3 linked regions of the Homo sapiens genome follow. The protein of the gene in region 1 interacts with the protein of each later gene in a biochemical or structural test. Each region holds a gene or a part of one and is shown in the gene's direction. Other genes may lie near its edges.

What was found.
Region 2: the proteins of NHERF2 (region 1) and PDGFRB form a complex in vitro, tested with the Homo sapiens proteins (2 studies listed by BioGRID and IntAct, with this or other methods).
Region 3: the proteins of NHERF2 (region 1) and RPS6KA1 interact in a test that uses a peptide from one of them, tested with the Homo sapiens proteins (2 studies listed by BioGRID and IntAct).

What each region holds. Positions count from the first base shown.
Region 1 is NC_000016.10:2,029,881-2,036,910, forward strand, and holds part of NHERF2 (Na(+)/H(+) exchange regulatory cofactor NHE-RF2), read left to right. Parts: intron 1-3,413; exon of another isoform or gene 3,414-3,471; coding exon of another isoform or gene 3,472-3,552; intron 3,553-3,708; exon of another isoform or gene 3,709-5,804; coding exon of another isoform or gene 5,805-5,813; intron 5,814-6,443; coding exon 6,444-6,623; intron 6,624-6,847; coding exon 6,848-7,001; intron 7,002-7,030.
Region 2 is NC_000005.10:150,145,837-150,152,866, reverse strand, and holds part of PDGFRB (platelet-derived growth factor receptor beta isoform 1 precursor), read left to right. Parts: exon of another isoform or gene 1-528; intron 529-7,030. UniProt on the Homo sapiens protein: Tyrosine-protein kinase that acts as a cell-surface receptor for homodimeric PDGFB and PDGFD and for heterodimers formed by PDGFA and PDGFB, and plays an essential role in the regulation of embryonic development, cell proliferation, survival, differentiation, chemotaxis and migration.
Region 3 is NC_000001.11:26,567,740-26,574,769, forward strand, and holds part of RPS6KA1 (ribosomal protein S6 kinase alpha-1), read left to right. Parts: intron 1-3,709; coding exon 3,710-3,871; intron 3,872-4,109; coding exon 4,110-4,186; intron 4,187-4,436; coding exon 4,437-4,554; intron 4,555-5,484; coding exon 5,485-5,622; intron 5,623-6,339; coding exon 6,340-6,462; 3' UTR 6,463-7,030. UniProt on the Homo sapiens protein: Serine/threonine-protein kinase that acts downstream of ERK (MAPK1/ERK2 and MAPK3/ERK1) signaling and mediates mitogenic and stress-induced activation of the transcription factors CREB1, ETV1/ER81 and NR4A1/NUR77, regulates translation through RPS6 and EIF4B phosphorylation, and mediates cellular proliferation, survival, and differentiation by modulating mTOR signaling and repressing pro-apoptotic function of BAD and DAPK1.

The sequences.
Region 1 (7,030 bases):
TGGTCTCTTCTGCCTTTTGGGGCTCCTTTTCTGCCCCAGGGACCATCTTGTTGGCCACTGGGGGCCACTGTTTCTACCCTCAGCCTGTGTTTTAAACTGGGTAGGGTCAGGGCAGCCTGGCCTGTTCCTCTTCTCCAGGATGCTCCAGAGCCACTTGCCCTATCGAGGGGTCACTCTGACAAGCTGCCGCCTCCCCAGCCCCCAGCCTCGTGGCTGAGGAACCCTGGGAAGAGGCATTCCAGGTCTGCGTGTGCGCAGCTCTGTGCCTGTGCTGGGTGTCATCCGTGGCTCTGTCTTTGTCTCTGTTGAAGGCGCCTGCATGCTGGGAAGGCCTGGGAGAGGGCCGGCCTTCTCCACAGGCAGCGCCGTGGTTGGGGAAGCCTAGGAGGCCACTCTGCCAGGCCTGGCGTAGGTGGGGCTGGGAGCATGGGAGTGGAGTTGGGGGTCCAGGAGGCTCCAGGGTGAGCCCACTCCTCCCCCTAGATACAAGGGAGGGCCCTGGGACCCTGTCTGCTGTTCCTCCTGGACTCCTGCTGGGTAGTACTTCCTCCTTCCCCTGCCCTTGCTCCCAGCCAGGAGACCCAGAAAAGTACAGGGGCGGCCTGCTCCACCTCCTGCTAGGTGGCCGACTGGGAGGGGCGGCCTGGCAGGCCTTGGGGACCAGGAGGAACAGCCTGAAGCTGTCTGTCTTATCTTCCTGGAGGCCCTGATGGCATTATCTCCATGTTCTCTCCTACCTTTTTTTTTTTTTTTTTTTCATTTTCAAAGAGAACCCTGGCCGGGTGCGGTGGCTCACGCCTGTAATCCCAACACTTCGGGAGGCTGAGATGGGTGGATCACCTGAGGTCAGGAATTTTGAGACCAGCTTGACTAATGTGGTGAAACCCCCGTCTCTACTAAAAATACAAAAATCAGTTGGGCATGGTGGGGCACGCCTATAGTCCCAGCTACTTGGGAGGCTGAGGCAGGAGAGTCGCTTGAACCCGGCAGGCGGAGGTTTCAGTGAGCCGAGATCCCGCCATAGCACTCCAGCCTAGGCGACAGAGTGAGACTGTCTCAAAAAAAAACAAAAAAAGGAAAAGAAAGAAATCCCTTCAGGGGATATGAGTCCAGGGGTTGGCCAGACCCCACTGTGAGAACCGCGCTTGGGGCAGGGGTGTGGGATCTGGAGTTCTGAGGGTGCAGGGGATATACACATTCACTTTCTCCCTTTCCCAGACGTCACTGCTGAAGCTGGCTGCCCCTAGGAGCTGAGCCCGGGGGGAGCGGCTTGGCAGGGAGACAGCATTCCCTGTGGGGAGCCCAGCCTGGGCGCAGGCCTGCCCGTGGGACCTGTGGGACCCGTTTTGTTCCTGGGGCTTGAGGGCGGGCCACAGTGGTGCTCAGGGCCAAGGTGCCCAGCCCAGGGCTGGTGGGGGGGCTGGCCTTGCAGGGGGGCTGGCTGGTCCTAAGCCCCTGTCTCCAGGCTGAGGGTTGGGGCCTCCCTCTTTCCCAGCCACCTTCCCTCCCCCAGGAGGAAGCTCCCCCTCTGCCTCAGGCGTTTGTCCATTGATTTGGACACAAACGCATGGTTCACCTTCCTGTGGAAAAATCCGGCCCTCGGACTTTATCTGGAGGGTGCAGTGGCCCAGGCACCTTGCCTTGGGTGGGACCTTCCCCCTCTGCTATTTCAGGCTCTGGGGGCTGCAGGAAGCCCTAGGAGGGGCTTCCTCTGGGTGTATTTTTAGAGGAACAAAGGGTGGCCTGAGTGGCAGGTCCCTTTGTGCATGAGTCTGGCTGGGGACAGGGGCTCCAGGAGGTCAGGGGGCACCCAAGGAACAGGGTCTCCCCTTCTCTCTTCTGGCATCAAGACCTGAGGTTTCTTTTTCTTTTTCTTTCTTGGCTCACTACAACCTCCGCTGTCTGGGTTCAAGCGATTCTCTTGCCTCACCCTCCCCAGTAGCTGGGATTACAGGCGCGCACCACCACACCTGACTAATTTTTGTGTTTTTAGTAGAGACGGGGTTTCACCATGTTGCTCAAGCTGGTCTCGAACTCCTGATCTCAGGTGATCTGCCCTCCTCGACCTCCCAAAGTTCTGGGATTACAGGTGTGAGCCACTGTACCCGGCCCCTGAGGTCTGAGGTTTCATTTCTTTCTTTCTTTTTTTTTTTTTTTGAGACGGAGTTTCACTCTGTCGCCCAGGCTGGAGTGCTGTGGTGCGATCTCGGCTCACTGCAAGCTCCGCCTCCTGGGTTCAAGCAATTCTTATGTCTCAGCCTGCTGAGTAGCTGGGATTACAGGCGTGTACCACCACACCTGGCTAATTTTTGTGTTTTTGGTAGAGACAGGGTTTCACCGTGTTGGCCAGGCTGGTCTCAAACTCTTGGGCTCAAGTGATCCGCCTGCCTCAGCCTCCCAAAGTGCTGGGATTACAGGTGTGAGCCCCTGCGCCTGGCTCAGGACCTGAGGTTTCTTCACCTGAGCTCCCAGCATGGGCAGGAAGAGGTGGGCCTCACCTGACCTCCACAGAGCAGGCTCAGATCCTGCCCTTCTCAGCCTGGGTTCAGGGCATGCCTCAGATGGTCAGGGAGCCCAGGAGGGCAAAGCTTACCTTGCGGGGATGGCTCCAGTGGGGGCACTGGTGGCAGAGAGGCAGAGCTCTGGAAGGGATGTGTGTAGTTTGTCTTTGGTGAAGGATGGAGAGGGCCCAACTTTGGGTGCCCCCTGGGAGCTAAGGGTGGCTCTCAGTGTCCTCTGTCCTGGCTGGGGATAGGGGAGGTGGGCAGGGGAGGACACTGATGTGGTTGGCCCCTCCTTTTGGGGGCCGTGAAGGCCTAGTTAGTGATGACTCAGCCCTGGGCCACACCAGGCTGGGGGTGGCCGCAGCTGCAGTGCAGCTGATCCTAGTAGTGACGACAGGGGACAGCCCCCAAACAGAGACGGGGTGGCCAGCGGTGCCAGGCCCTGGAGGTGGTGGCAGACCCTGAGCCCTCTGCCCCCTGCCCCTAGCCCATGTCTCCACCCCCATCTGGAGGGCCTTGGGGGCTAAGAGCAGGTGTGAGGGGTGACAGTTCTGCGGGAGGCGGCTGTGTGGTTGGGGCGCGGTGCCTGCGGGGGCTTCCGGGCTTCCCTGGCTCTTGCTCCTCTGGAGCCTCAACAGGACCGTCCTGTGTTCTGGGGCCGGGACTCCTCCCTGTCCCCTCAGCCCTGGGTCCTGGGGCAGGGCAGGGCCTTCCAGCAGCTTCCTTCCTTCCTTTCTTGGGACGGAAGCCTAGCTGGGTGGGGGGCGCCAGGCTGGAGCCTTCGCAGGGGAGCGGGCTCAGTCATCACCCTGCTCCCCAGAGTGACTCAGCCCCCACGTCCCCACCCATCCCCGGGGAGCCAGGGCCGCAGAGGGAGGTAGATAAGTGGGGTGGCAGCCTGGGTCGGCCAGAGAGTTCAGGCCACCCCGGCCGGACGCCTGCCACTTGCTGTCACTGTGCCGCTGTCATGGCACGCTCCGGGAGTGCCACGCCACCTGCCCGGGCTCCGGGAGCCCCTCCACGGAGCCCACCCCAGAGGCTGGTACAGGTCAGGTGGGGTGGGAGGAAGGGAGGGCTAGGAGGAACCGGCAGCCGCTCAGCCTCCCGGGGTGGAAGGAGGGGACTCCGGGACCTTGATGTAAGCAGGCTGGTCGCTGAGCAACAATGAAGGCCTTTCTCTGCCAGGGCTGGTGCGTCACCATCTGGGGGGGTGCCCAGGGTACCCCCATGCCAGCCTCTTTGTCCGGACACAGGCATGGCTGGGGGACCAGGGATGGTCCAGCTCTGTGCTGGCCGCCGGCAGGGAGGGAGCCTGGAGCCCGTGGGAGCCCGAGGGCCTGGCGGGAGGCGGCAGGAAGTGTGTGCTGAGCCAGGGCAGGGAGGAGGAATGTGAGCTATGAACGCCGCCCGAGCTCCTCGGCTCTCTGGGCCCCCCTTCCCCACGAGCCCATGTGCTGCCAGCAGCCCACCCTGGCCCCTCCATTGCAGCCCCTCCACCTGAGGTTTTAGTGCTGTGCCTGGCGCCACTGGGACCCTGCTGACAATGAAGGGGTTTAGGTTTGATAGGCAGAACTTCTTGCCTTGTAGAGTGAAAGACGGCTGCTTCTGGACAGAGGCAGAGGGGTGGCCAGAATGACCCTGAGAACACTGAGGGGTCCTTGGCCTGGCCTCAGGGCCCCAGACACCCACCAGATCCTGCTTCCTGTCTGGTGCCCTGAGAAACCCTGCCCCGCAGGCCGCTGTGCAGGCGTGGGAAGGGCTGCCGGGCCAGCACTGTGGGGCTGGCCGCATGTGTGGGCTGCTGTGCGTGTTTGCAGGTGTGTGTGGACGTCTTGTGTCTGTGGCTGTGTGATGTGTCTTTGCGGACTGGGCCCATATCACGCTCCCACCTCCTCCACTGAATTGGGCTCCTGTCCCCACGCCTTCCCTGCGTCCCAGGCCAGCCTGGGGGCCGTGCTCCACCTCCCCTCCCGAACTGGACTCCTGTCCCCACGCCTTCCCTCCGTCCCAGGCCAGCCTGGGGGCCGTGCTCCACCTCCCCTCCCGAACTGGACTCCTGTCCCCACGCCTTCCCTCCGTCCCAGGCCAGCCTGGGGGCCGTGCTCCACCTCCCCTCCCGAACTGGACTCCTGTCCCCACGCCTTCCCTCCGTCCCAGGCCAGCCTGGGGGCCGTGCTCCACCTCCCCTCCCGAACTGGGCTCCTGTCCCCACGCCTTCCCTCCGTCCCAGGCCAGCCTGGGGGCCGTGCTCCACCTCCCCTCCCGAACTGGACTCCTGTCCCCACGCCTTCCCTCCGTCCCAGGCCAGCCTGGGGGCCGTGCTCCACCTCCCCTCCCGAACTGGGCTCCTGTCCCCACGCCTTCCCTCCGTCCCAGGCCAGCCTGGGGGCTGTGCTCCACTTCCCCTCCCGAACTGGACTCCTGTCCCCACGCCTTCCCTGCGTCCCAGGCCAGCCTGGGGGCCGTGCTGTGACTGCATCCCTGAGGGGCACTTTGGTGGGCAGGTGTCAGGGTCAGCCTTGAAGCCCCACGCCTGTGCCACCAGGTGTGTCTGGGGGAGGAGTGAGTCTATGTGGTGGGGCCCTGGAGATTTTGGGGGTCTTGCACCCTCTAATTCAGCCCATGTGGCCCAGCTGAGCCCCTGTGGGGCCAGGGAGCCACAGGCTTGTCCCTGGAGTTTCTGGTGTGACGGGCTGGGTGGTGGCCATGCAGAGAGGGTTCAGAGGGTGGGCAGGAGGCTTCAGATGAGGCATCTGGCAGGCTGGACAGGAGAAGGGTGTTCCAGACCAAGGGCAGGTCCTGAGCCCAGGGGACAGAGCACTAGCTGTGTGGAGAAGGACCCCCTTGCTCCCTTGGCGGGGCGGTCCCCCCCGCTGACATGGCCGTTTCTGGTCCATTGGGGTTTGGAGCGAGCTTGAAGGTGGGTGGCTGGAGGGGTTGGGGGTGTCTGAGGCCTGGAGACCTGCCCTCCTGAGGTCTGAGCGCCCCCTTGCCATGCCGCCCCAGCCCTGGCCTGGCCTGGCCTGTGGTCCCTCAGGGACACACAGGGAGGTAGGAGGTGAGGGAAGGGCCCTGGCAGCCCCCAGCCCGCCTGCACAGTCTCCCCTGCGCACGCCCTCAAGCTTGGCGCTCCCTGGAAACCTGAGCTGCCTCCTGCCTGCTCCGGCCACCGCCATGTTTAACTGAGCACGGGCAGCCGCTGGCCACCGCCGCCGCACCCTGGCCCACCCCCTGGCTGGGAGGTGGTCATTGGGCCTGGCCTTGCCTGCATGGTCCCCTGGCCCAGAGCCCTACCGCAGGATGCCAGAGGTAACATGGGGCAGGGCCTGGGATGGTAGCGGGGGGTCCTTCCGGGCACCAGGAGGCCCTCTGTGCCCTGTCCACACTAAGCTCCTGCCCCAGCCCCTGCTTGCTGGGCCCACGGGGGTGGGGCGGCTCATTTTCCTGGAATGTGAAAGCAAACAGAGCCGCCACCGCAGCCAGCCCCACGGAGGCCTCTGGAGAGAAAACAAAACTGCTGGCCTAGGAGCGCCTGCCCCACGCTCTGGAGGAGAGCCCGGGGCAGGGGGACGCACAGGCAGAGCCCTCAGGGACAACCGCCCCAGGAGGCCAACGGCGACAGTTCATCCCACCTGGTGCTTCCTCCCACCCTGCCTGTGCGCCACGCTGGCCTCGAGCCAAAGGAATTCTCCCAGCAACCCGGGAAGGCGGCTGGGCCCGTCGGGGAGGCTTCTGGGTTTGAAAACAGGCTTTGCCCAAGTTCCCACAGCTAAAGCTCTGTCACAGGCAGCCTGGGTGCCCGGAGTGTTTGCCACTGAGACCTGGGCCTGCCCGTGGGGGGCACGGTACCGAGTTTGGGCAGTGGCGGCACCACCGGGGAGTGGCCTCTGGAGGCGGGAGGCTGGAGCAAGAGACTGACCCTGTCCGTTGGGCCTGCAGGATGTCAGTGGGCCCCTGAGGGAGCTGCGCCCTCGGCTCTGCCACCTGCGAAAGGGACCTCAGGGCTATGGGTTCAACCTGCATAGTGACAAGTCCCGGCCCGGCCAGTACATCCGCTCTGTGGACCCGGGCTCACCTGCCGCCCGCTCTGGCCTCCGCGCCCAGGACCGGCTCATTGAGGTACCGGCCCACCAGGGCTGCGGGGTGCCGAGTGCCCCGCACCTGTCCACACTGGGGCCCTGGGTCCTTGCAGGGAGGAGGGAGACGCTGGGAACCTGAGCTGGTGCGCCTCCTGCTGCCTCGGTGGGCGGTGGCTGTGATGAATATTTGATGCCACACCTGGCCACGCGGCGTTGGGGGCTGTCTGGGCCCATGGCGGGGCTGATACATGCTGGTGGCGGCAGGTGAACGGGCAGAATGTGGAGGGACTGCGCCATGCTGAGGTGGTGGCCAGCATCAAGGCACGGGAGGACGAGGCCCGGCTGCTGGTCGTGGACCCCGAGACAGATGAACACTTCAAGCGGCTTCGGGTCACACCCACCGAGGAGCACGTGGAAGGTGGGCCACGGCCCAGGGCACAGGGTGGG
Region 2 (7,030 bases), on another chromosome or scaffold:
GTGCTTACCACAGTTCCTGCACTTCACAGCTGGACCTCTGGCCACTGGCTGAGAGAACCACTGCTCTCCTGGCCTCCTGCATTGGAACACTTGGCTGTGAAATTAATCTGCAACCTGCAAAAGGCTCTGCCCACAGAAGGGACCTGGACACCATGTATGTTCCAAAGATCCGTGTCCATCCTCCAGGCACAGGCCACAGTCTGACTCTGAGACCAGCTGCCTTCTAGGCTAAAGGAGGGTGCTCTGGGCATTGGCTCAGAACAGGCTGCTGCTGAATGCAGTGGGAAGGGAGAAAGGGATGAAAAGGTCTTCTGAAATGCCCACCCATTTCTTGCATTTGATTCAGAACCCAGTGGGCAGTGGGTTCTTGGAATGGGAATCTTTTTGGTGCCCCCTGTCTTCTGACCCAGAGCGTTAGGAGGGAAGGGAAGGGGTGTTGGGCCCCTTCCCAGGGTCAGGGCTTGTAGCACCTCAGCTGGGAAGCAGTGTGAGCATGATGATATAACAGGAACCAACTCGTTCTTAGCACTTTCTGTGTCTACTTCAATTGTGCTTTACATCTGTTACCTCAAAGTTGCTGCTGTATTCCTCAGCACTTGGAACATGCTGGGCATTCAGGACATTCTTAGTAAATATTTACTGGATTAATTTAACCATCGAGGCTGGGCACGGTGGCTCACACATGTAATCCCAGCACTTTGGGAGGCCGAGGCGGGTGGATCACCCGAGGTCTGGAGTTTGAGACCAGCCTGGCCAACATGGTGAAACCCTGTCTCTACTAAAAATACAAAAATTAGCCAGACGTGGTGGTGCGCACCTGTATCCCAGCTACTCAGGAGGCTGAGGCACTAGAATTGCTTGAATCCAGGAGGCGGAGATTGCAGTGAGCCTAAGCGACAGGGCAAGACTGTCTCAAAAAAAATAAATAAATAAATAAATAAACCGTCACAGCAACCTCAAAATTAGATATATAAACTCTCCCCACTTTTTTTTTTTTTTTTTTTTGAGATGGAGTCTCACTCTGTTGCCCAGGCTGGAGTGCAATGGTATGATCTTGGCTCACCGCAACCTCCGCTTCCCAAGCTCAAGTGATTCTCCTGCCTCAGCCTCCCAAGTAGCTGGGATTACAGGCGTGTGCGCCACCATGCCCAGCTAATTTTTATATTTTTAGTACAGATGGGGTTTCACCGTGTTGGCCAGGCTGGTCTCGAACTACCTGACCTCAAGTGATCCGCCTGCCTCAGACTCCCAAAGTGCTGGGATTACAGGCGTGAGCCACCGCACCCAGCTAAACTCTCCCCATTTTACAGGTGAGAAAGTGCGCAGAGTCAGTTGCCTAAAGTCCCACAGCTCGGAAGTGGCGGAGCTGGGATTTGCACCTGGGTGTTTCTGACTCCAGATCCCCTTGATGAGAGGCTGGATGGGGCCTGGGATGCCCCTGGGGATCCAGTGTAAACCCTGAGAATGTGCCTCAGCTGTGGGGGCCCTCAGCATTCCAGAGGTAGTCATCAGACCCTAGAACCCTATGGGACTGTGCACAGATCGTTCCCTTCTGGGGCCTCAGTTTTCCCATCAGTCAAACGAGGAGGTTGACCCAGATGATGGTAAATCTTTCTTCCAGCCCTAAAACAATTTCAGGATTCCAAGCCATGCCAGCCCAGATTGGCAGCTGCACAAGCCTTGCTGTGTACTCAGGGATCATGCATATTTAATTTCACAATGAAAGGGTTTTTTTCTTACCCTTTTTCTACACATTACAGAAAGAGGTCAGGATCGATGACCACTAATGGAAAACTTTAACCTGCAATAACAATGAGGAACTTTCTGACAATTAGTGTGGCCCCTTAACGTGCTCAGTTTCTTGAGGAGCTCAGAGGGCTCCTACAGTTCCCACATGCCCATTTTCCTGAGATACTGAGCAGGGAGGGTCGGGGAGGAAGGCCCACTAGGGGCTGTGTGTGGATGCTGTAACCCTTTAGGTCTCTTCCAGTGCTGCGTTTTCAAACCTCATATGCTCTAATTTCAAGAGGAAGCAAGGCTTTGGCCCAGATGAGTGATGGGATCCAGAGGTGAGGGGGGGAATGGACACAGGGACCTACCTCTGGTGGGAGTGGGTGTGAAATTCCCATGCTTGTTGCTTCCAGTGTGGAAGCCCACTTCACATCCCTCCTGAGCCCTCAGGCCCAGATCCTCAGGATAAAGTCTTCCTGAACCTCCAAGCCTTAGCCCCAGAGCCCACCCTGCCCCCGCCCCCTACATCCACCAGATGCTTCCTGGGGTAGCCCACCCCCAGCCTGGTGCAGGAGGCTGAAAATCAAAGTGTACTGCTTTAACCGCATTAAAATCCCCTCCTCTCCTCAATTCAGATCAGGGCTATTTGATGTCTCAGGTGCCTGAAACCTTTTATCTGCCAGAGGTACCAGCTTCTCCGCCCTGTGATGGAGAGGGCTGTCCCTTGGGAGGGTCAGGGGGTCTGAAAGTTCCTGAATGTCAGAGATGAAAAGGACTTTTGGGGGTCACCTGATCCAACTGCTTTATTGTATGGATGGGAACTAAGGTCCAGAGAGGGGAAGGGTTGCACCTAAGGTCCGTACAGATCATTGGTGATGACGCTGAGCCTGGGACCTGGGCTCGCCTTTGTTCCACCACAGGTGCTGGGTCTTTACCATCTCTCTGAAGGCCTGGAGAGACCCAGCTCCACCTCTGTGGTTCAGGGCTCAGCCTCCAGGTCTGTCTGGGCTATGGGCTGAAAAGGAGCAAAGCCGTCCCAACAAGAAATGGGAATCTTCCTGGGTGGTTTGCTGGACCCCCGAGCTTTTGGCCATACCACTTCTTCATTCTAATCATAGTTTCCTCTTATAATAAAGTGGGGAGAAGCCAAGGGAGAAGTTTAGTGGCCCCCAGAGGTCCATCCAGCTCTGCCCTTAGCCCCTGAGAGTTCCTACCATGCTTCTTGTGACTGTTTTGCCACATCCTCATTGCTGCTGCTCTGTTACCTTCCCTTCTGAGAAGTGGAAACCCAAGGGCAGTGACACCACCAGCTTCTTCACTTCTGAGGCTGAGCCTCAGTGGTTATAGGGTGGGGCAGGGTTTCCAGTTAGCCTTAGAGGGGTAGGGCTCAGCTTTCTAAACATGTCACAGAAGCCCTGGCCCCTCCTGGCCCAGAGCATTGAAGGTAAAGGTGCAGGTTTGACCTGGTGGACTGTGGGTGGCTCCCATCTCACCTGTATTTGTGTCCTTATCAGTGTCCAACCCAGGGCCTATCTGCTGAATGGATAGTGAAATAATCACTAGATAAATAAATGCATGTAGAGATGCATAAATGGATTGGTGGGTGGGTGGATGGATGGATGGATGGATGGATAAATCGATGGAGACAGACAGATGGCCTCCCCTTTAGTCCAGGGCACAGAGATGGCTTCATGAGTACTCATCCTCCTGAGGGCCCCATGCTTAGAAGGGCCTATGTTTGGTTTAATGCTCTGCAGTCATCATTTTGAAATTGTTAATAATTTTTAACAAAGAGCCCTGCATTTCCATTTTGTGCTTGCCCCACAAATTATGTAGCTTGTCCTGCCAGGGAGTTCAGGCTGAGTTTGGGACGGCTTCATCCCCAACACTGGCCTTGCAGCCTCCACTGTCCCCATCCTAATCCACAGCCTCCCACTAAATGCCAGCCTGCTGGTGTCATCCTCCTGCATGGAGGCCCCCTCCCCACAGTGCCTGGAGTTACAGCATTGCCCTGCCAAGCCAGCAGCTACTACCCGCCATCACTATCAACACCTTGAAAAGTTGGTGGTCCAGAGAAAATCCTCACACAGCACCGCAGACCTTTCCTGAAGTCTCCCTGCCTCCTTCCCTGGCCTCCTGCTGCCTCCTTCCCAGGCCATCACCTACCTGTTTGCTGAAGAGCCCCAGTTTCTAGCCCAACAGATCTCTCCCTGCCATTTCTCCCAGATGCCTTTCATCTCTCACAGAGCCCTGGCCATACCTTTCCCTGGCATCATCTGCCAAAAAACTCAAGAAACCCTGGAGGCCTAGCTCAAGGCCACCTCCCTCAGGAAGCCATACCCGCTCTCCCCACTGGAGTAATCATATACTGTTGTTAGTCACCATTTACTGGGCACCTATGATGTGCCAAGTGCTGTGCGTCATCATCTCTGGCCCTCCCAGAAATGGAAAAGGAGGTCTCCCATGCCATTTCCCAGGAAATTGGGACTCAGATAAGTTAAACTCAGAGAACTGGGGCTTGGACCCAGGAATAAGTGGCTTCCAGCTGGAACCACTGCTCCCAGCCTGGCGGGGCTCCCATCCCTGCCCTGGATGGCATCAGGCGCAGCCTGTTGGCTTCAGAGTGCCATATGTCTGTTCTGCCCTCACCAGCTCATCTCCATCACCTCCCTGGAAGGAAAGAGTCACCATTGCCTATCCATGCCAGTTCCCTAGCCTAGTGAATCCTGTGTTATTAGGAGGCAGCCGAGGGCCCAGGACTGAAGAGCTGACCCTACAGAGCCATTTAATCTCTCATATCGTGTAAGCGTTTACTGAGCACCTACTGTAGGCCTAATTCCATATTAGGAAGTTGAAGAGAGTCCAGATCGTTGTTAGGTAGGTATCCTGATTTGTGGGAAGTCATATTAAAGGACTAAGACAAAAGTTCAGGAAAGAAGTAATTGACAGACAGTGGTGATTAGATGGGTCTGGCCTTAGGTTGGCCACCGAATCGCCGAGTGTGCTAGGATGAGACACTCCTCACTGAGCCTCAGGACACTGAAAAGGGCTGTTGCTACTGATTGTACCAATAATCAGCAGCTACCTCTTCCTGAGGAGCGTCTTTTGGGAGAGGCCTTCTTGCACCGTCTCATTTATCACATGCATCACTTTGCTGAGAAGCCTAGTCCCGTGGAGTCTTGGCTGTGCGCGCAAGGCCGAGTGAGTGAGTGACTTCTTCTCCCTTGAGTGAATGAATAATAATAATGTGGCCACCAACTTTGCAGAGGGCTGTGTGCCAGGCCCTATTCTAAGCATTTTGCTTGTGTTAACTCCTTCAATAGCCCTGACAACCCAGTGATGAGCCCCAATCTACAGATGAGAAAACTGAGGCACAGAGGGGTGGTTAAGTGAATGACCGAAGACAGGGGTGGGAGGACAGATGCTGAGACAGTGAGAGGGTCAGTGAAACATGGGGGTTCTCTGCCCTCCTGCTCTGCCGCCCAGGAGGGCTCTGAGGGGAATCTCAATGTTTGGTAATTGGCACTGATAAGTGAAGGGTTTACTCATTAGCTAGCTACCCCTCCCCTATTTGCAGGCCCTGGGCCTGTGGGGGAAGGCTGTGTGCTGGTGGGTCAGTGTGAATGGCCCAAGGCCTGCCTGTCCCCTGCCCACTTGGCTCTGAGAACCCATTCTATTTGCGGCCCCCACCCCAGCCCATGGCTGCTCCGGGCTGGCAGCAGCCCGGGGAACAGAAGGTTTGCTTGTCTGCGCCTGCCGCACCCCCCTCCTCAGTCTCAGCCTGGGACCCCTCTCAGGGGCTCCTTTGGCTGCCAAGGGCCTGGCACTCCCTGTTGCCATGGCACCGGCCGGAGATGAGGCTCTGGGGGGTGGGGATGGGGAGGGCAGCAGCAGGATGGTGGAGGCCTGGAACTCTGCAGCTACAGAGGCCCTGGCCCTCTGCAAACAGTGGAAGGGGGTGCTGGGGCCCCCACAGGGGCAGGCCTGGACCCTGTGCACAGCAGGCCTGTGGCAGAGCCGGCCACACACCTGGGCTGATTGCCTGGATGCTGTATCCCGCAGGAGCACTGCCCCTGCCAGACCCTGGCTTTCCTAAGCAAAAACTCTCTCCTCAGCCTTGTGTGCTCACCCTCAGCCTCTGCAGCGAAATTGTGGAGTTCTATCCCTAGTCCTGGGTTCTATCCCTAGCTCGACTTTAAAATTATTGGTGACCCGGGGCAGGCCTCCCGCATACACTGCCCCTCAGTCAGAGCAGAGGCGGGACCCAGATCCCTGAGGATCTTCTCATCCCTGAGATCCTGGATTCCGTATGGACGCCATTAGAGGGAGAACGTTTCTCTGTGGACAGATGGACAGAACTGTTTCTGGTCAGGAGACAGACAGTCTGGCATGACGGGCAAGAATTCAGGTTTTGGCAGTTGTGGTGATGCGCACCTGTAGTCCCAGCTACTCAGGAGGCTGAGGCGGGAGGATCACTTGAGCCCAGGAGTTTGAGGCTATAGTGAGCTGTGAGCTATGATCATGCCACCACACCACTGTACTCCAGCGTGGGCAACAGAGCGAGACCCTGTCTCTAAAAAAAAGAAAGAATATAGGCTTTGGAGTCAGGCCGGCCTGAGTTTGCATTCCCGTTCCTTTGCATCTTACTTATTGTGTGACCTTGGGAAAGTTACCAAAAGTCTCTGAGACTCATCATTCTCCTCTGTAAAATGGGAATAATGAGTGTACCCCCCTCACAGGGTGGTCGTGAGGATGAAACAAAATCTCCAGATCATCTCATTTAGCAGAGTGCCTGGCTCTAAATTAGTAGGGACTTTTGTTTGTTTCCAGATTGGGGGGGATCAGAACAATAACTAGAAAGATGTCCTGTATTTGGGGAGAGGGTGGTTGGTGGATAGAAGCAAGACCAATAAGCAGAGAATACAGTGAGATAAACTGTACTCAGTGTAATTAACAATTCTCAATAGTCTGCCCTCTGAAGATTCTAAGCTGGCTAAGAATGAAATGGGCCACAGGTGAGGTGGTGAGAGCCCTGTCATGGGAGGTGTGCAATTGCAGAGAAGGTGGGGGAGATGTGAATAGAGGGAATGTACTAAGACTGTAGGGCTCTGTGAAAAATGGAGTGACTGTTTCCCACTCAAACTGTCAGCTTCAGCTTTACCCAGCTCAAAAGACAGCGTGAAAGAGTGAAAGGAGAAGTTGGGACAAAGAAGGCGAAAAGATAAGGCTGACGACTTTATTTTTTAATTTATTTTTTTGAGACGGAGTTTCACTCTTGTTGCCCAGGCTGGAGTGCAGT
Region 3 (7,030 bases), on another chromosome or scaffold:
TTCAGTCCAAGGCAGTTCTGGGGTTACTGTGATGTCCATCATTTCCCAAGCCCTTTGCTAAATATTCCTGTCCTTCTCTATAAGCCTGGGGTTGAATACTATTATCAGCCCCATTTTACAAGTGAGGAAACTGAGGGCTACAGATGTTAAATGTCGTGCCCAAAACCACACAGCTGTGAGTGGATAGTAAAGCCAGGATTCACACCCTGGCCTGCCCGACTCCTTCCTGTGACTGGAATCCCAACTCTCCTGGAGGTCACGGCCTATTGCTCCAGTGCCTGCATTTGGCCTACACATATATTTTGTTTGGCCTGCAAGATAAGGGGTGTTTTTTGATTTGAGGTATGGTTTAGTAAGGTTTGGTAATTTGGCTGCTTTTAAAAACACTGGGTCCGAGTTGCTATGTAGTGACTGTCAGCTGGAGCCAGGTAGCTGCTGTCCTCTGTGGACTGCTTGGAGGTTCCCACTCTGCCTGGCTTCACTCATTACTTGCCCAGCCTGTTGTGATTTTCCATGCGGTGAGATGTGAGACTATACTTTTCCTCCCCCAACATACACTCCTGAGGGTCAGGTATCAGAATCACCTGTGGGGCTTTTTAAAGCTGTACTTCCCCTCCCCCACTCACCATCCCTACTATTCTGCCACTGGCAGTGGTGAGACAGTTTCCTATAGGAATTTGTAGTTTCTCTATGTTGTATTAGGGTAGGAAAAAAGATCAACAACTTGAGCCGGGCGTGGTGGCTCACGCCTGTAATCCCAGCACTTTGGGAGGCTGAGGCAGGTGGATTGCCTGAGGTCAGCAGTTCGAGACCAGCCTGGCCAACATGATGAAACCCCATCTCTATTAAAAATACAAAGAATTAGCTGGGCATGGTAGCAGATGCCTGTAATACCAGCTCCTTGGGAGGCTGAGGCAGGAGAATTGCTTGAGCCTGGGAGGCAGAGGTTGCACTGAGCCGAGATCACGCCATTGCACTCCAGCCTGGGCAACAAAAGCAAAACTCCATCTCAGAAAAATAAATTAATTTAAAAAAAAGGTCAACTTCCATATCCCTGTGTCCCAGTAGTGTCATGTGTGCCACACTAAACTGGAAAGACTATGGAATTCAGGTCAGAACTGGGTTCTGGTCTTGCCTCTGCCTCTAACCTACATGCAAGTGAGTTGTCCTCTCAGGCTGGGCGTAGTGGCTCACACCTGTAATCCCAGCACTTTGGGAGGCCAAGGTGGGAAGATCACTTGAGGCCAGAGTTTAAAACCAGCCTAGCCAACAGGGTGAAACCCTGTTTCTATAATACAAAAATTAGCCAGGCATGGTGGTGCACACCTGTAATTCCAGCTAACTGGGAAGCTGAGATATGAGAATTGCTTGAACCTGGGAGACGGAGGTTGCAGTGATCCAAGATTGTGCTGCTGGCGAGACTCCATCTCAAAAAAAAAAAAAAGAAAATTGTCCTCTCAGAGCTTTGGTTTTCTCCTCTGTAAAATGGAGCTAATAATTCCTGTCCACCCGCCGAGGTGCAGTGGATGGCTCCAGTGAGATCACGACTGGTAACATTCTTTGTAAACTGGAAGTTCACTTGTGCAGGGTAGTTGGTGTCCTCAGCCAAGCTGAGCATCCCTGACCTCTAGGTAGAGTCCACATTCCTGGGGGCCTGGCCTTGTGCTGTGGGCATACGATTGTGTTTGAAGGAGGGAGCCCACGGGACTTTCTCCAAGGCTTGGATACAGTGTGTTGCTGGGGCTACCCTAACAGTGTGGCCCTTTCCCCCTCATCTACCTGGCACTCTTCTCCCTATGGAGGTGGACTGTGCTGGGCCATGTCTACCTACTCCACGGGCTCCACGGGCATTGCTGGAGGGCTTGGAGATCAACTGAGACTATGAAAAGACTATCTGAATAAAACCAACTAACCTGCAAAACTCTACTAATCTAACCTGCAAGGTATCTGTCTCTGTGTTTCAGAGGTGTGATTTGTTCATTCATTGCACAAAGTTCACTTAGCATTTGCTCTGTGCTAGGCCCTGCACTGGGTGCTGAAGGTGAACGGGCATTCCACAGACATAGGGTTATGATCGTTACCGAAGGAGCCCCTGGTGGCCTGAGCTCAGGGCACCTGAGGGATGCAATGGACAGTGAGGCTGGAACAGATGATGGCTGTGCCTCCCATGTTAGGGTAGGGACTTTGGGCTTTATCTTGCAGGTAGGGAGCCTTTGAAGGTTTTTTGACAATGCCCAGGGAGGTTCCATTAGCTTAGGGGAGGAGGAGCAGGAAGATGAGAACATGAGGAGTTTAGTGTGGGATGTGTTGAGTTTGAGGCTCTGTGGAACATCCAGTGGTTGCCTTGTGGTAGGCAGTTGGATTTATGAGCCAAGACTCAGGAAAAGTTCTGGACTAGGGTTAGAGATCTGAGAGGTATTGGTAGTTGATAGTTAGAGGATTGACTATGAATGGAACTGTACAGGCCAGGCACAGTTACTCACACCTTTAATCCCAGCACTTTGAGAGGCCCAGGCAGGAGGATCACTTGAGCCCAGGGGTTCAAGAGCAGCCTGGGCAACATAGCGAGACCCTGTCTCTGCAAAAAATGTTTTAAAAATTAGCTGGGTATGGTGGCACATGCCTCTAGTCCCAGCTGCTTGCGAGGTCGAGGTGGGAGGATCACTTGAGCTCAGAGATTGAGGCTGCAGTGAGCCATGAATCATGCTGCTGTACTCCAGCCTGGGCAACACAGACCCTGTCTCAAAACAAAACAAAACAAAAAAGCCTTACAGAGTGTGGGGAGGAGAAGAATGAAATGTGGGGTGGTTCAGCCCCCTCAAGTTACAGATGAGCAAACAGGGCCCAGAGGAAAGCCGTTTGCTTATGGCCTCAGCAGTAAGTGTCATTCATCCATTCATTCAACAGATATTTATTGAATACCTGCCATGTACTAGGAGCTAGTTTAAGTGCTGGGATACAGCAGTGAGCAAAACACTCAGGGAGCTTACATGCCGGTGGGCAGACTCAGAAAACAAATTAAATATTATGTTAAGTAGTGGGAAGTGCTACAGATAAAAGTAAAGCAGTGTATTCTTTGATTTTAAAGATAAGGAAAATAGGGCCAGGCGTGGTGGCTCACGCCTGTAATCCCAGCACTTTGGGAGGCCGAGGCAGGCAGATCACTTGAGGTCAGGAGTTTGAGACCAGCCTGACCAACATGGTGAAACCCCATCTCTACTAAAAATACAAAAATCAGCCAGCCATGGCGGCGGGTGCCTGTAATCCCAGCTACTTGGGAGCTGAGGCAGGAGAATTGCTTGAACCCGGGAGGCGGAGGCTGCAGTGATCTGAGGTCGTGCCACTGCACTCCAGCCTGGGTGACAGAGGAAGACTCCATCTCAAAAAAAAAAGACTTTTAAGATTTTGACCTAAGTAACAGGAAGGATGGAGTTGCCACAAGGTAAGATTATGTGATGAGTAGGTTTTAGGGGAGAATTGAGAGTTCAGTTTTGACAGGTTAACTTAGAGCTACCTGTAGACACCTACACAGAGTCAGTAGCAGCAGCAATAAGACCATCATTTCAGCCCCTTCCCCTTCTCTCGGATGCCAAGTCCATGCACCCGTCCCTCTGCACCCTGTCTGTGTAGCTTTCTAATCTCTGGCCGCTGACCTGGGCCACTAGCCACCTCCCCACACTGAGAACTGACCCCAGCCCCCTGCCCCTAGGTTGTGCACAGGGACCTGAAGCCCAGCAACATCCTGTATGTGGACGAGTCCGGGAATCCCGAGTGCCTGCGCATCTGTGACTTTGGTTTTGCCAAACAGCTGCGGGCTGAGAATGGGCTCCTCATGACACCTTGCTACACAGCCAACTTTGTGGCGCCTGAGGTGAGTGGCCCAGCCTCCTCAGCTGTAAGAGTGAGGGGGAATTGGAGGCCTTGTGCCCCCTCCCAGAGGCCCCACATTAGCCGGGACTCCAGTCTCTGTGACCTTGGCCCAGCTGGCAAGGGAAGATCTAGCCTGTGCCTGGGACCCTTGTCCTGCCCTTGAGGGGAGTAGCAGGAAACATCTGTGGCGACTTTCTACTGCCCCCCCAGACTGACCACCTCCCCTGCCCTGTTGCCAGGTGCTGAAGCGCCAGGGCTACGATGAAGGCTGCGACATCTGGAGCCTGGGCATTCTGCTGTACACCATGCTGGCAGGGTGAGTGCCCCTGGCCTGGACCCTTCCCCACTCCTGCAGCCCTAGCACTTGGGCTGAGTGGTGCTTGTCTGATAGGAATGGCTCAGCCAGCCCCGCCCCAGGATGGTCTGGAAATAGGGACATGCTCCTGCCTCCAGGAGCTCTACCTTGGGAGTACCCCATCTGAGGGGGAGACACAGTCTCCCACCGCAGCCCCAGCCCCAGTATGGAGGCCAGAGTCTGTACCCAGACCGTGCGGGCTTTTCTGCAGATATACTCCATTTGCCAACGGTCCCAGTGACACACCAGAGGAAATCCTAACCCGGATCGGCAGTGGGAAGTTTACCCTCAGTGGGGGAAATTGGAACACAGTTTCAGAGACAGCCAAGGTGAGTCTGTACGGCCTGCGTGGGCTTATTTGGAGGAGGGAGGCAGGGTCCCATCCTAGGGCTTTTCAGCAGTTCATGAACAGCCTCATTTCTCCAAGCGGATGTTCCACAAATCCCTGTTGCTGTATTTCTCCAAGCGGAAGATTCCCAGGCAGACCACCACCACCTCCGTACCTTGTTGGGGTAACCTGGTGATCATTCATTGGCCCTTCTCATTCTGGACCCTGTGGGGCACTGAGGGCTGCATCATCACAGTCCCGGCTTTGTGGAAACGTAGTGTAGTGAGGGATACAGGTTTGCACACAAGGGGCAGAGATGCCTGGAGGCACAGATAGGCGGACGCTCTTGGCCAGGGGTGTGGACCGTGGAGACACAGAGCAGAGCAACTGGCCATGCCAAGCAGAGCCTCCTCGGAGGAAGTAGCATGTGAGCTTTCAGTATTAGCAACAGTTTTTGGTCATTGGGAACCTGTATGCCAGACAGAGTTGAACCCTCTATGTACGGCCGGCCACCTCACATCAACCTGTGAGGCAGGGAGTGGTTATTCCTATTTCTCAGCAGGGAAACTGAGGCTCAGAGAGTTGAAGGAACTTGCCCAGGGCACTCATTTGATGAGTGCAGAAGGCAAGTTTTGAACCTGAATCTGTCTGAGCCCAAACCTGAGGCTTTTCCCACCTTCCCACATGGCTTTTTGAAGGCAAAGGAGAAATGGAAGGGTGTTCCAGGACGAAGGGCCTAGAGCAGCAAAGGCCCAGCGACAGGAACCTTGGCTGTGTGCGGGGAGCCCTGGAGCAGAGTGGAGAATGGATCCCAGGGGCTGCCGCAAGGGTTCAGGCGGGAGCTAGCAGGAGATGGTTGCCCTCCTGTGCCCCATCAGGGGCCTGCTCCCCTGCAGCCCTCCCCCAACCCCCTTGCCCACTGTGTCCCCAGGACCTGGTGTCCAAGATGCTACACGTGGATCCCCACCAGCGCCTCACAGCTAAGCAGGTTCTGCAGCATCCATGGGTCACCCAGAAAGACAAGCTTCCCCAAAGCCAGCTGTCCCACCAGGACCTACAGCTTGTGAAGGTATGGCCACCCTTGGGCTGCTGGGCATCTGGGGGGTCAGCCCAAGGTGGCATGGTCAGGGACTTGTGGAAGAGCCAGGCAATGCCATGTCTGTACCAAGCACCATGAGGTGGAACATAGGAGAAGAAGACACAGCCCTGCCGTCAGGGAGCCTAACATGCTACAGTGTCACGGTGCACTCACAGCCCCCAATCCTCTGGAAGGCACAGCTGCTGACCTCTGAACCCTCCAGTCTGATGGGGGAGGCAGGACCCATGACCATAAAGGACCACTGAGGCTGGATTAACAGTGGGCTAGGCTGGGCGCGGTGGCTCACACCTGTAATCCCAGCACTTTGGGAGGCTGAGGTGGGTGGATCACGAGGTCAGGAGTTCAAGACCAGCCTGACCAAGATGGTGAAACCCCATCTCTACTAAAAATACAAAAATTAGCCAGGTGTGGTGGCAAGCGCCTGTAATCCCAGCCATTTGGGAGGCTGAGACAGGAGAATCGCTTGAACCCTGGGGGCAGAGGTTGCAGTGAGCCAAGATTGTGCCATTGCGTTCCAGCCTGGGTGACAGAGTGAGACTGTATCTCAAAAAAAAAAAAACAACAAAAACAAAACCAAAAAAAGTGGGCTGTGGAACACTGAGAGGGGCTGGCCTACCCTTGGGGCATGGATCCCCTCCCCGCTACATCTCCCACCATTGTGACCTGACCTCCCCACTTCTCTTTCAGGGAGCCATGGCTGCCACGTACTCCGCACTCAACAGCTCCAAGCCCACCCCCCAGCTGAAGCCCATCGAGTCATCCATCCTGGCCCAGCGGCGAGTGAGGAAGTTGCCATCCACCACCCTGTGAGGCACCAGGGCATTCGGGCCACAGGGCGGTGCTAGCTTGACACAGTCAGCATGCTTCCCAGAGGGAGCAGGCCGGAACCACAGGGCCAGAGGGAGCTGGAACCCGAGGGGCCGGGGAAGCTGCCAGCCCAGAACACCCCTAATGAGGGTGTGAGAAGTGCCTTCTCCTTCCCCAGGATGGACTCTTCTCGGCTCAGGCTCTGCTGGTGGAAAGCGATTCACTGTATAAACTTTTTTTTATGAAAAAAATGGCATCAACCACCATGGATTTTTACAAGATCCATTTGCCTTTCTGGGAGCAGAAACAGCCATTGCGGCCCCAGGAGGGGAACTGAGTCACGCTGGGGCTCTCTGAGACTCTTTAGAGCAGCTTTGGGATCCCACCCTGGGGACCCCCACGATTGGCCACCTGTAGCCATCTGCACACACCTCCGAGACAGTCCAGTGTCACCTCTCTCAGAGCATCTGGCTGTTTAGCAGAACTCATTCTATCCCCAATCAGCTCCTTTTCCGTTCTGTTCTGCTGGGAGTTCTAGAACCACTTCCTGCTACAGGAGGGGTCTCATGTC